3 linked regions of the Homo sapiens genome follow. The protein of the gene in region 3 interacts with the protein of the main gene of each other region in a pairwise test. Each region holds a gene or a part of one and is shown on either strand. Other genes may lie near its edges.

The links.
Region 1: the proteins of DYDC1 (region 3) and PDZD4 interact in a two-hybrid assay, tested with the Homo sapiens proteins (one large-scale study listed by BioGRID).
Region 2: the proteins of DYDC1 (region 3) and ARNT2 interact in a two-hybrid assay, tested with the Homo sapiens proteins (one large-scale study listed by BioGRID and IntAct).

What each region holds. Positions count from the first base shown.
Region 1 is NC_000023.11:153,823,927-153,827,576, forward strand, and holds part of PDZD4 (PDZ domain-containing protein 4), read right to left. Parts: intron 1-3,650.
Region 2 is NC_000015.10:80,410,779-80,414,428, reverse strand, and holds part of ARNT2 (aryl hydrocarbon receptor nuclear translocator 2), read right to left. Parts: intron 1-3,650. UniProt on the Homo sapiens protein: Transcription factor that plays a role in the development of the hypothalamo-pituitary axis, postnatal brain growth, and visual and renal function. Specifically recognizes the xenobiotic response element (XRE).
Region 3 is NC_000010.11:80,335,497-80,339,797, reverse strand, and holds the end of DYDC1 (DPY30 domain-containing protein 1), read left to right. Parts: intron 1-644; coding exon 645-701; intron 702-1,226; coding exon 1,227-1,331; coding exon of another isoform or gene 1,332-1,382; exon of another isoform or gene 1,383-3,612; coding exon 3,613-3,642; 3' UTR 3,643-3,693; downstream 3,694-4,301. UniProt on the Homo sapiens protein: Functions as part of axonemal radial spoke complexes that play an important part in the motility of sperm and cilia. Plays a crucial role during acrosome biogenesis.

The sequences.
Region 1 (3,650 bases), on a different chromosome or scaffold from region 3:
AAGGAAGGAAAGGACACCTTTCTCCCCAGGATGCGTGCATGTGGCCATGGAGTTCCTGTTCTAAAGCTTTGGTGAGGTCTGTTGCTGGGTGGTAACCTGCACATCTTCAGTGTGCAAAGGGCAGGTGTTCATATGTCATACATGAACCTGGGGAACCATCACCACCGTCAGGACAGTGGCCATTTCTATCTTCCCCAAAAGTGTCCTCATGCCCCTCTGCCCATCCCTGCAACCACGAATCTGCTCTCTGGCACTATCGAATTTCATTTCAGCAGACTGGACAGTCCTCAGGAACCCCGAGATGAGAGGGGAAAGGGCATTCTACAATCTTGGGACAATGACACAAAACAGGATGACCTGGTCCAGAAGATGGCAGTCAGAATTCAGTGTCCAGCCCTCTGTTCTTCCACTCCACAAGGACTTTCTCAGAGCCTGCTTCTTCCCCAGTCAGCTTCTGCGGCAGAACCACTGAGTTGACTGAGAGTCCAGCTTTCCCCTGGAAGGGTGGAGGCCAGCGTGGATGTGCTGGCAGCATCTGGTGCTGGTGAGGCGGGGAGGCAGAGTGCCCATGCCAGACCCAAATCCCTGCTCACAGGAAGCCCCCATGCAAGCAGGAGGGAGCCAGAGAAGCCACCTGGCTTGGTGGGTGGGAGAGCAGTTTGGAGGAAGACGTCGCTGAAGAGGGGACACTGGCTGCCAGCCACGCTCCCGCACTCAAGCAGTACTTTCTCTCCCCCGCAGTTGCCTACATGTTGGCGATGGTCTCCCCCTTACAAAAAGGGGAGCCTGGGGCCAGGCGTGGTGGCTCACTCCTGTAATCCCAGCACTTTGGGAGGCCGGTGTGGGTGGATCACCTGAGGTCGGGAGTTCAAGACCAGCCTGACCAACATGGAGAAACCCCATCTCTACTAAAAATACAAAATTAGCCAGGCATGGTGGCGCATGCCTGTAATCCCAGCTACTCGGGAGGCTGAGGCAGGAGAATCGCTTGAACCCTGGAGGCGGAGGTTTTGGTGAGCCCAGATCGTACCATTGCACTCCAGCCTGGGCAACAAGAGCGAAACTCTGTCTCAAACAACAACAACAACAACAACAAAAGGGGAGTCTGGGGGAGGGGCAAGGCCCTGTCTGCAGTGTCTCCCTGCTGAATGCCACGCACCCAGGATGGCTGCCAGCACCATGGGGGCTCACATGCAGGTGCTTTAGGCAAGAATGCCTGGGAGATCACCAGAAGGGCTGGCCAGCTGTCCTTTGGCCTCCCTCGATGTGGACAGAGGGGAGATGACAGGCGGTCCTGACCCACTCCCCCTGTAAAGCCTGAGTAGGATGGGCGGGAGACCAGTCCTAAGTACCAGGGGTTTATCCCCTGACCATCTCCGGCGTGCTCGGATGCTAGCAAGCACATCATGGTGTCAGAGAGGGGGTGCCAAGGCCAAGACAAGTTCAGCAGAGTGTGGACCACGATGAGATATATGACAAGGGGGCCTGGTGGCAGTGGAGGGACATGGGCTGCAGAAAAGGCTCCGGAGCTGGGGACATGCTGTTTCCTGCCTTCCATTCTGGGCAACCAGCCTGCTTCCTTTTCCTAACTCAACACGCAGTAATCCTCCATTTTCAGGGGAGGTCCCAGATTTTCCAAACTAGGAGGACATGATTGGAATATAGGAATGGGGCTGAGGTTCCGACATGACACACGAAAGTGCCTGTGACAACCCACATCCGTGGAATAAAGGAACCATGTGGTCATCTCACTAGCCACAGAAGCAGCACTGCACAATCCAATGCCTCTCATGATAAAAACACACTAGGAATAGAATGGGAACTTCCTTACCCTGATAAAGGACAGCTATGAAAAAGCCACAGCTAACTTTATACCCCCTAGTGAAAGACTGGAAGCTTCTTTACCTTTAAGATGAGGAACAAGGGAAAGACATTCACAGGCACTTCTATTCAACATTGTACTAGAGACTCCAGCCAGAGCAAATTAACAAGAAAAAGAAATCGAAGGGCCAGGAACGGTGGTTTACACCGGTAATCCCAGCACTTTGGGAGGCCGAGGCGGGCAGGATTGCTTGAGGCCAGGAGTTCAAGACTAGCCTGGCCAACATGGCAAAAGCTCGTCTCTGCTAAAAATACAAAAATTAGCTGGGTGTGGTAGTGTGTGCCTGTAATCCTAGCTACATGGGAAGCTGAGGCAGGAGAATCACTTGAACCCGGGAGGCGGAGGCTGCAGTGAGCCGAGATTGCACCACTGCACTCCAGTCTGGGTGACAAAGTGAGACTGTGTCTCAAAAAAAAAAAAAAAAAGAAAGAAAGAAAAGAAAAGAAATCAAAGCCATCCAGATTGGAAAGGAAGAAGAAAAACGATTTCTATTTGCCAATGACATGATCCTAATATGTAGATAATCCTGAGGAATCTACTAAACAAATTATACTTAATAAACAATTTTAGTAAGGTCGCAAGATATAGGATCAATGTATAAAAATCAATTTTTTTTTTGAGACAGAGTCCTGCCCTGTCACCCAGGCTGGAGTGCAGCGGTGCAATCTCAGCTCACTGCAACCTCTGCCTCTGGGGTTCATGCGATTCTCTTGCCTCAGTCTCCTGAGTAGCTGGGATTACAGGCACACATCACCATGCCCCGTTAATTTTTTTTGTATTTTTAGTAGAGACGGGGTTCCACTATGTTGGCCAGGCTGGTCTTGAACTCCTAAGCACAGGTGAGCCACCCGCCTTGGCCTCCCAAAGTGCTGGGATTACAGGTGTGAGCCAACACGCTCAGCCAATCAATTGTATTTCTATACAGTAGCAATGAGAAGGCTGAAAGTAAAATTAAGAAAACGATTCCATTTATGATAGCATCATAAAGAAAATACTCATGAATAAACTTAAACAAAAGTGCAAAACATCATGTAAAGAAATTAAAGACCTAAATAAATGGAAAACGCACCCCATGCTCATGAACAATACTACCCAAATTGATCCACAAATTTGATGCAATCTCTATCAAAATGCCAACTGGCTTCTTTCCAGAAATTAACAACCTGATCCTGAAATTAATATGGAAACTTGAGGGACTTAGAATAGACAAAACAGTCTTGAAAAAGACGTACAAAGTTGGAGGACTCTCATTTCCTTACTTCAAAACTTACTACAAAGCTGCAGTAATGAAAGCAGTGTGGCGCTGGCTTAAGAACAGACATTTTTCTAAAGAAGATCCACAAATGGCCAACAAGCACAAGAAAAGGTGCTCATCATTTAGCTAACAGGAAGTGCAAATCAAAATCACAATGAGATACCACTTCACACCCAGCAGGACGGCCATAACAAAAACCCAGAAAATAACAACTGTTGGCAAAGATATAGAGAAATTGGAACCCTTATATGTTGCTGGTGGGAATGTAAACTGGTTCCAGCCACTGTGGAAAACAGTTCAATGGCTACAGGCACACACTCCAAAGAATTAAAAGCAAGGACTCAAACAGATACAAGTAGACCAGTGTTCACAGCAGCGCTATTCACAACAGCCCAAGGGTGGAAGCACCCCAAATGCTCATCAACTGACGAATGGATAAATATGTTGTATATCACAAAATGAAATATTATTTGGCAATAAAAAGAAATTGACTATTGATACATGGATGAACCT
Region 2 (3,650 bases), on a different chromosome or scaffold from region 3:
GGTTTTCTTCTAGTTGCCACTGTCCAGAGGCCTACAGAGTTTTGTTCCCATAGACCAGAGTTTCTCAACCTTGGCACTATTGACATTTGAGGCTGGATAAGCTCTTTGCTGTGGGGGCTGCCCTGTGCACAGTAGGATGTTTAGCAGCATCCTTGGCCTCTACCCGTAGATGCCAGTAGCACCCCTACTCCCTGGAGGTGTGGCAACCAAGAATGTTTCCAGACATTGCAAATGCCCCCAGTTGAGAAGCACTGTGTGGATACACGTTTGGCCTCTGTGCCCAGGTTTCTCACATGTCCTGCCACCCAACTTAGAGGTCTATTGAAGATAAGAAAGACAATACTATTTTGTGTGGCTATTAATTTAAAAATTGGTGCACCAATTAACTTTGGCTTCCTGTTCCTCTAAGTCTGGAACTCAGCTCATCTACTGACCTCTATAAAGGGCAACTGTGTAACTTTCCTGGCCTCCCTTCAGTGATTTAATAATTTCAGTGGCTTTTTTAACTGCTGTTAGGGTAATTGGGTGGTCCAGGCCAAAACAGGCAGGAAGTTGCCTTACTCAACAGGCAGAGTATATGGAAGGCCACCCTCCTCTCCTTTGGCCCCACCTCCCTCGCTCAGCCACCAGTAAGGCCTTCAGCTAATTTGTCTCTTGGAAGGCCTGGCTCTACCCGAAGAGCTGGGTTTCCACTCAGGCCAACTCCTCTGGTGCTCCCACCCTGGACATTGCACCCCTGAATCTTCCCAGGCTGTCCTACCTCAGAGTCTTTCCTTTTGCCACCTAAGCCTGGATAGAGAGATGCCTAGTTCCACCTGCAGCTGCTCTCCACTTTTTTAGAGTTGTTGGAAGAAAAGTAGGGATGGCCAAATCAGAAACAAACACATTTATCCTCAGTTACTAACAACTCCTGAATGTGCATTTGAAACAGGAATAACCACCATGGCCTGCCTAATGGTATCACAGGCAGGCAGGCAGGACCAGAAATCACCTGGCCGCATGCTCTCTAAGCCCTGGGACCACCCTGTCAGCCAGGTGGTCTGGTTGGAAGTGTGTAGGTCAATCCTAGGAGGATGTGTGGACAATAGACGGTGAGCAAAGGTTTCTGGGTAAGTTAGTGGCACCAGCGTTTGAGAAAGGCCATATGGAAGAGGTGAATTGGTAAGGGAGGGGGTGGAGGGAGAACAATGGGGCCTCAGATGAGAACCCAGGTTGGCATGGAGAGCCCAGTCATGGGGCCCCTGCAGCGGCCCACTGAGGCCATCAGAGGCTCTCTGCCTGTTGAGTAAGGCAACTTCCTGCCTGTTTTGACCTGGACCAATTACCCTAACAGCAGTTAATTAAAAAGCCACTGAAATTATTAAATCACTGAAAGGAGGCCAGGAAAGGTACACAGTTGCCCTTTATAGACATCAGTAGATGATCTGAGTTCCAGACTTACAGGCAACAGGGCCTGGCCTGGGTTGCCGGAACCTGCCAAGGATAGGGGGCACAGCGTCTGGGTGTAAGACCTACTCATCCACCTACCTGCTGGGGACTCCAGATAAATCTCTGAGCCTCTCTCTGAGCCTCTGTTCTAACCTTTGTGGACAGCAGTATAAAAGTATATAAATCCATTTGACTGTTCAATTCTACTTCAAAGAATTGACAATAAGGAAAAAATCATGTATTCATATATTCATTCATATACGGGGATGTTCAATACAATGGTGTGTACAATTCTGGCAAACAGAAAAGCACACCAAATATTATATGCCCAGATATAAGAATGTGAGTTAATGAATTATGACACAGCCATAAACAGAATATATGCAGCTTCTCAAATCAGTATCCTTGATAGGATATACCATTAATGAAGGGAAAAAAGGGATGACAAAGCAATATGCTCGAAATAATTCTATTTTGTTATATATATATATATACACACACACACAATATTTAGAAAAAAGTCTGTAAGGATATACGCAAAAATGTTAGTTATGGGTGGCAGAATTATCTTAGTGTTTTTGTGCATTTTCCAAATTTTTTACAATCAACACAGATCTTTATTGTGGGGGAAAAGTGGTTGTGGTGAAGAAAGCAACCAACTCCTCAGCAGGGGCTAGGAGAAGAGCTCCAACCTCTGCTTTGTATGTTCTCACAATGAAACCAAAACAGTAAGAGATGTCCCATGTTTTCATACAATGTACAAAAGCAGGAAGTACCTATTTGTAAACATTTTGGCATTTTTGTAGATTTCCCTGAAAAAAATGGTCAAATTGTTATAGACTTGGCAGCCACAGAGTCTCTGCTTATCTGCAAAGAGCCTCAGCTTCCAACTCTAAAGCCTGCACTATTCAATCAGAGGGCAATGAATGCATCTTTTGACCTTGTTGCTGCCTTCCTGAATGCTGTTGGGGTGGCTGAATCTCAAAGCCAGCCTGGAGTCTGTCTTATCAGTAACTGCTGGTAATTAAGCAAGCCATGTCAATAGTTTCACACACAACACAGAAGGCAGTAAATGGGAGGATCCCACTTCCCTTCTGAGAAGACCCTGTGGGACTGTAACACGGAACCTACCACTACCACCAGCCAGTCTCCAAGCTATCACCTACCCTTCTTCTGGGAAGAATGATGAGCTTTGTGTGTCCAAGGTATCAGGTAGGTGTAGGACCTCCTCACCCACCCACCTGCTGAGGACTCGAGGTAAGTCTCTGAGCCTCTCTAAGCCTCTGGTGTAACCTTTGTGGACAGCAGTATAAAATAAAAATATATAAATACATTCGACTGTTCAATTCTGACCTAATCTTCTTCTGGGAAGAATGATGAGCTTTGTGTGTCCAAGGCTCCTTATTAGAAAGTCTAGAGGAACTAGTTTGCATAGGGATTATCTTGGTAGGATTTTCAGATCAAAATCAGTTTCCACAAATAAAAGTCAGAATCTCAATTAGACAGCTCTGGACTATTTTGTTACAGAGACCCACAAATATAGGATATATGCTTTCTTTCCTTCAAGGGAGTCATTGAAAGGCAGCCACATACAAAATAAAAGACAGTTCCCTGGCATCCCTCCATTTATTCATTAACAAAACCCTACTGGGTATCTATTGTATGGGAAGCAATATGGTAGGTGCCAGGGCTGCCATACTGTTGGATACATTCCCTGCCCTCACAGGGCTTCCAGTCAGGTATCAATCAAATAACTGCACAATTTACATGAGGCGAAGTGCTCCAGAAGCAAAGTACAGCTTTATGGGGCCCTGGAAGAATGCATGATAGGTACATTTTACCTGGATAAAGGGATCAGGATAGATTTCCCTAATGGAGTAAGAATTCAAGCTGAGACCAGAAGAAAAGTAGGAATTGGACAGGAAAATGGTTAGGAGTGAGGAGGGGGTAAGGGTAGGGAAGGAGGGACAGTGAGCAATTAATCATTCCAAGAAGAGGGACACAACATAAACAAGAGCCCTCAATTGGAAAGGAGCTTGGCTAAAACTGAGAAATAACTTTTCTTCATTGAACAAAGAGTTTCGTGTGGTGAGCTAGTCCAACAGCCTGACCTGCCCCACAAAAGGAGGGAAAGAGAAAGAGAGAGAGAGAGAGAGATGGTAGACAGATGATAGGTAGGTAGATAGATGATAGATAGATAGATAGATAGATAGATAGATAGA
Region 3 (4,301 bases):
AAGAAATCACTGGTCTTCTAGCAGCCAAAACGAATCAGCTCAGGGTCAGTTAGGCCACCCTGCTGCTTTAGAATGAAAAGGTAGATGGCATAGCAAGGTTTGGCTGACTAGAAGAATGTTTCACATTCAGAAAGAGGCCTCCCTTATTGGGCAGTATATTCCTACTGCAGTGCTCAGAGTATTAAAGAGGGCATTGCTCAGGTCCTGTGGGAGGACTTGTGCATTGGGCCAGATTAGTTCCTGTAGAAGTGTTTACTTCTTTCTCGGTATGTGCAAAACTCTACTTAAGTGTGGTTTTCTCCTTAAAAATCTCTTGTTCTAAGGTTCTATTATAATTTTTATTTTGTCACTTTTTATATTGGCAGATAATTTGGCTTCAGTTTGACTGTTTCAGTCCATTTCATTTTTAAAAAACTTTTATTTAATTATATATAAAACATGGTTGCCTTCTATTAGTATAGAGTATTAAATAAGACTGTGATCTGCAGTTTTGTAATGTGTAATCAGATCATTCTCTTTCAGAGTGACAGCATTTTTGCTTTAAATTCATCATAGCATTGTGTAAAAGTAAAAATGCCAAAAATTAAACATGAAATCAAAATGGAGTATATTCAAAGTATTTTCTTAATTTTTATATATTATAGGAGATGAGAATGAATATGGAAAATCTAGTTAGGAATGAAGATATTCTACATTCAGAGGTGAGAAGAAAAAGTCATTCTATGTTATGTGAAATGAATTGAGTATCCTAGAATGTAAAGCTTAATTTTGATGCATAAGTAGCTAAATTTTTAGCAAGTATATTATCAAAACTGATAGTCCATGTATATTTTCCGGTGATAACAAGTCACAAATAATGTGCTTTGAAGCAAAATCTCACAATAGGTAAAAATTGGACATTCAGTTTGTGTTTGGATTTTTAAAAACTAGGCTCTCTTGAGATATTGAAGCTATTTACCACATAATTACTTACAATTATTTTAAATTTCTGCAGGTATTTTTAAAAAAAGTTCTAGTATTTATTACCAGAATTGTAGCTTTGCATTCTAGGATACTCAATTCATTACCAGAATTCTCTTGTCATTAACAGAAATTGGTTAATTCCACTAATTAATAATGTTGAATTTTAATGTTATAAATCAGAAAATTTTTAATCAAAATTGAAAGAAAAGTAATGTATTAATTTTGAAATCATTTAAAAGTAAAAATCAATTTTTTGATTGTAGGAAGCAACACTAGACTCAGGCAAAACACTAGCTGAAATCAGCGATCGTTATGGAGCACCTAACTTGAGCAGAGTGGAAGAACTTGATGAACCAATGTTTTCTGATGTCAGTATCAGTGTGTTTTGTGAAAAAACTCGTTTTTGTTTTTGTTTTTGATTTTTTTTACTTAGGTAAAGCCTAGGGAAAATGAGGCTAGGCCAGGATTGGTTGGCAAATAGGCCTTTTGCTTCAGAGAAAGAAAATCAGTTCCCTGGTTGCGGATTATATTCCTAATTGGCATTCTGCCCTTTTGTGAAGTGTGTCACTGGCTTATCTATATCTCCGTATCTGTGACTTCAAAACCTCTTCAAAATATGTTTTAAAATCATTTTGTGAAATATATAATCTTTAAATTTGGTGTGGGGGGCACGATTTTTGTTCTCAGTAGCAAACCCTGGAACCAAATTAATGCCTTAATGAGAATGCATGCTTCTCCAGTATGTAAGTACATTTGTTTATTTAAGAAACATGCCACATCTTCCATATGCCAGGCACTGTGCCTGATGCTGTGGTGAATAAGGCAGATGGCTTTGACCTTATGGAGTTTATTGTCAGGGGAGAAACAGACAATTAGATGAACATTTAATAGTCATGGTTAGTGGGACCACATAATTTATTGTCCAAACCAGTATGCTTTTGAGAATGAGAGCCGGATCAGCAGATGTAAGCCAGGACTGTCCTGGAAGAAGGGTACATTTTGGTCACTTTAATTGGTGTACACGGACAAGGGGGGACAGCCAGCACAGTTGAGGAACCTCAGTCAGGGAAGGAAGCTAATGATTTGCTACTCACTGGTGGCATGGGAGGCTGAGGATAGTGCTCCAGGCAGAGAGCATGGAAGGTGTGAAGACCCAGATAGGAGAGCGTGTAGAGGGAGTGAGGCAGGGAGGGGTGAGAGCTGAGGCCAGGGAGAAAGCAGGGGCCAGACCATGAAAGCACTTGTCATTTCTGTTCAGAGGCTTAGATTTTATCCTGAAGGCAGTGGAGACTCATATGATGAGAGCTACATTTTGCAAAGACCATCTGGTAACAGTGTGGGGAAGAAAATGGAGAAGTAGGTGTCAGGAGATGGCTTAGGAGGTAGTAATCTAGGGGACAAGATGTCGATGGCCTGAAGTAAATGTTGTTTTCAAGAGCTGTTCAGAAAATGGAGCTGCACAGACTCAGTGCTAATTGTTTAAAGTTTTATTAAAGGTCAGCTATGATTTGGCACTATGCAGGGAGCTAGAAAATGCCAATGAACAAAATGGATTGGGCTTCTGCCCTTGGGGGCCGTGGGCCAATGGGGAAGCTTCTTTGAGGGACAGAGTAGGGAGAGACCTGACCTGGGCTGGACAAGTCTTCCTCAGGAGGTGAAGTTCAAGGAATTAGCCTGAGATGAGCCCAGAGGAAAGAGACAGCAAAATGCTTTCAAGGGACTGAAGTCATCCAGTATTAATGGCTAACGTCCATGGAGCTAGGAAAATGGTGTGATTTTAAGCTGGAGAGGTGGATAAAGGCAGAGCACACTGGGTCTTGTATGTTGCCTTAGGGATTTTGGACTTAAGTGCAGTAGGAGTTATTGAAAGGACTTAAAGATTCAATCTGTGTTTTTATAAGGTGGAGAGAGGATTGGTGTGGAGCAGGAGTGGAAAAAGGGAGACCACTTAGGAAGTTATTGCACTGATCCAGATGTAAGATGACTAGGGTTAGACAGCAGAGATGGAGGGAACTGAGTGGATTTAAGATTGGCTTACAGGATCAGTGCGGGGCAGGGTCAGGATGAAGCCTAAATGTCTTCCTTGGGCTACTGAGTTAAGAGTGTTAACATTTGATGAGTTGATGAACATAAGAGGAAGCAGGTTTTTAAAAAATGATGGCTTCAGTTGCAGAGATGTTGACTCTCAGGTGGCTCTGAGATATGCAGGTGAAAACAGCCAAGAACAGTTGATGTTAGGAAGGGGCCCAGGCCGGAGATATAAATTCAGCAGTCATGGGCATATGTGCTGAATGAAGCAAGGGGATTGAGTAAGGTACCTAGGAGAGAGTGCAGTGTGTGAAGGCCTGGGGGCTCAGGGAGGAACCATTAGCAATTCTAACATTGAAGGGATGGCCACAGGAAGAGGAGCCTACAAGAAGGATGAGAATGCATAGTAAGAGAAGTAGAAGAAAGGATGGAACAATAACTACTTTGAGAACATAATTTATGGTTATATTCAATTTGAGTATCATTTGAAATCATCTGAAACTCCCAAAAAGTTTCATTCATGTAGTCACATAGAAGTTACCTAAAGTTTATTTCTTTGGCTTGTGCCTTTTCACAGTTCTAATTGTATTAAGGAATATTTACTTTTTGTTTTGCTTTTAGATTGCATTAAACATTGATCAAGATTTGTAGGACCAACCAACCTAAGAGCAATAAATGTTTTTGTTTGTTTCAAATTTCAAACCATGAGGTTCCCAATTTGTATTTTTTTCCTTCAAACTTGAACTCCCCTTTTTTTTTCCTCTAAGGACTGCTTATGAATGGGCTTCAAGAGTAGCCTCAAATTATTATTTTGGATCCTTCAGTTCAACTGGTTATTTATACATTTCCATTGGGAAAATAGGAGAGTTTGCTGAAGCAACCAAAAGAGGCAAATGGGAGGTGAGCTGAACTAATATGTGCGTCTATGCAAGAGCAAGACTGCCTGAGAGGACAGTTGCTGGCTGGGTGCAGTGGCTCACACCTGTAATCCAGCGATTTGGGAGGCCAAGGCAGGTGGATCACTTGAGGTCAGGAGTTTGAGACCAGTGTGGCCAACATGGTGAAACCCCGTCTCTACTAAAAATACAAAAGAAAATTAGCCGGGCGTGGTGGTGGGCATCTGTAATCCCAGCTACTTAGGAGGCTGAGGCAGGAGAATCACTGGAACCCAGGAAGCAGAGGTTGCAGTGAGCCAAGATCATACCACTGCACTGCAGCCTGGGTGACAAGAGTGAGACTCCGTCTCAAGAAAAAAAAAAGAAAAAAAGAAAAGAAAGTTGCTGGTCCGTGAGAAGTGAGTGAGGTGGCCA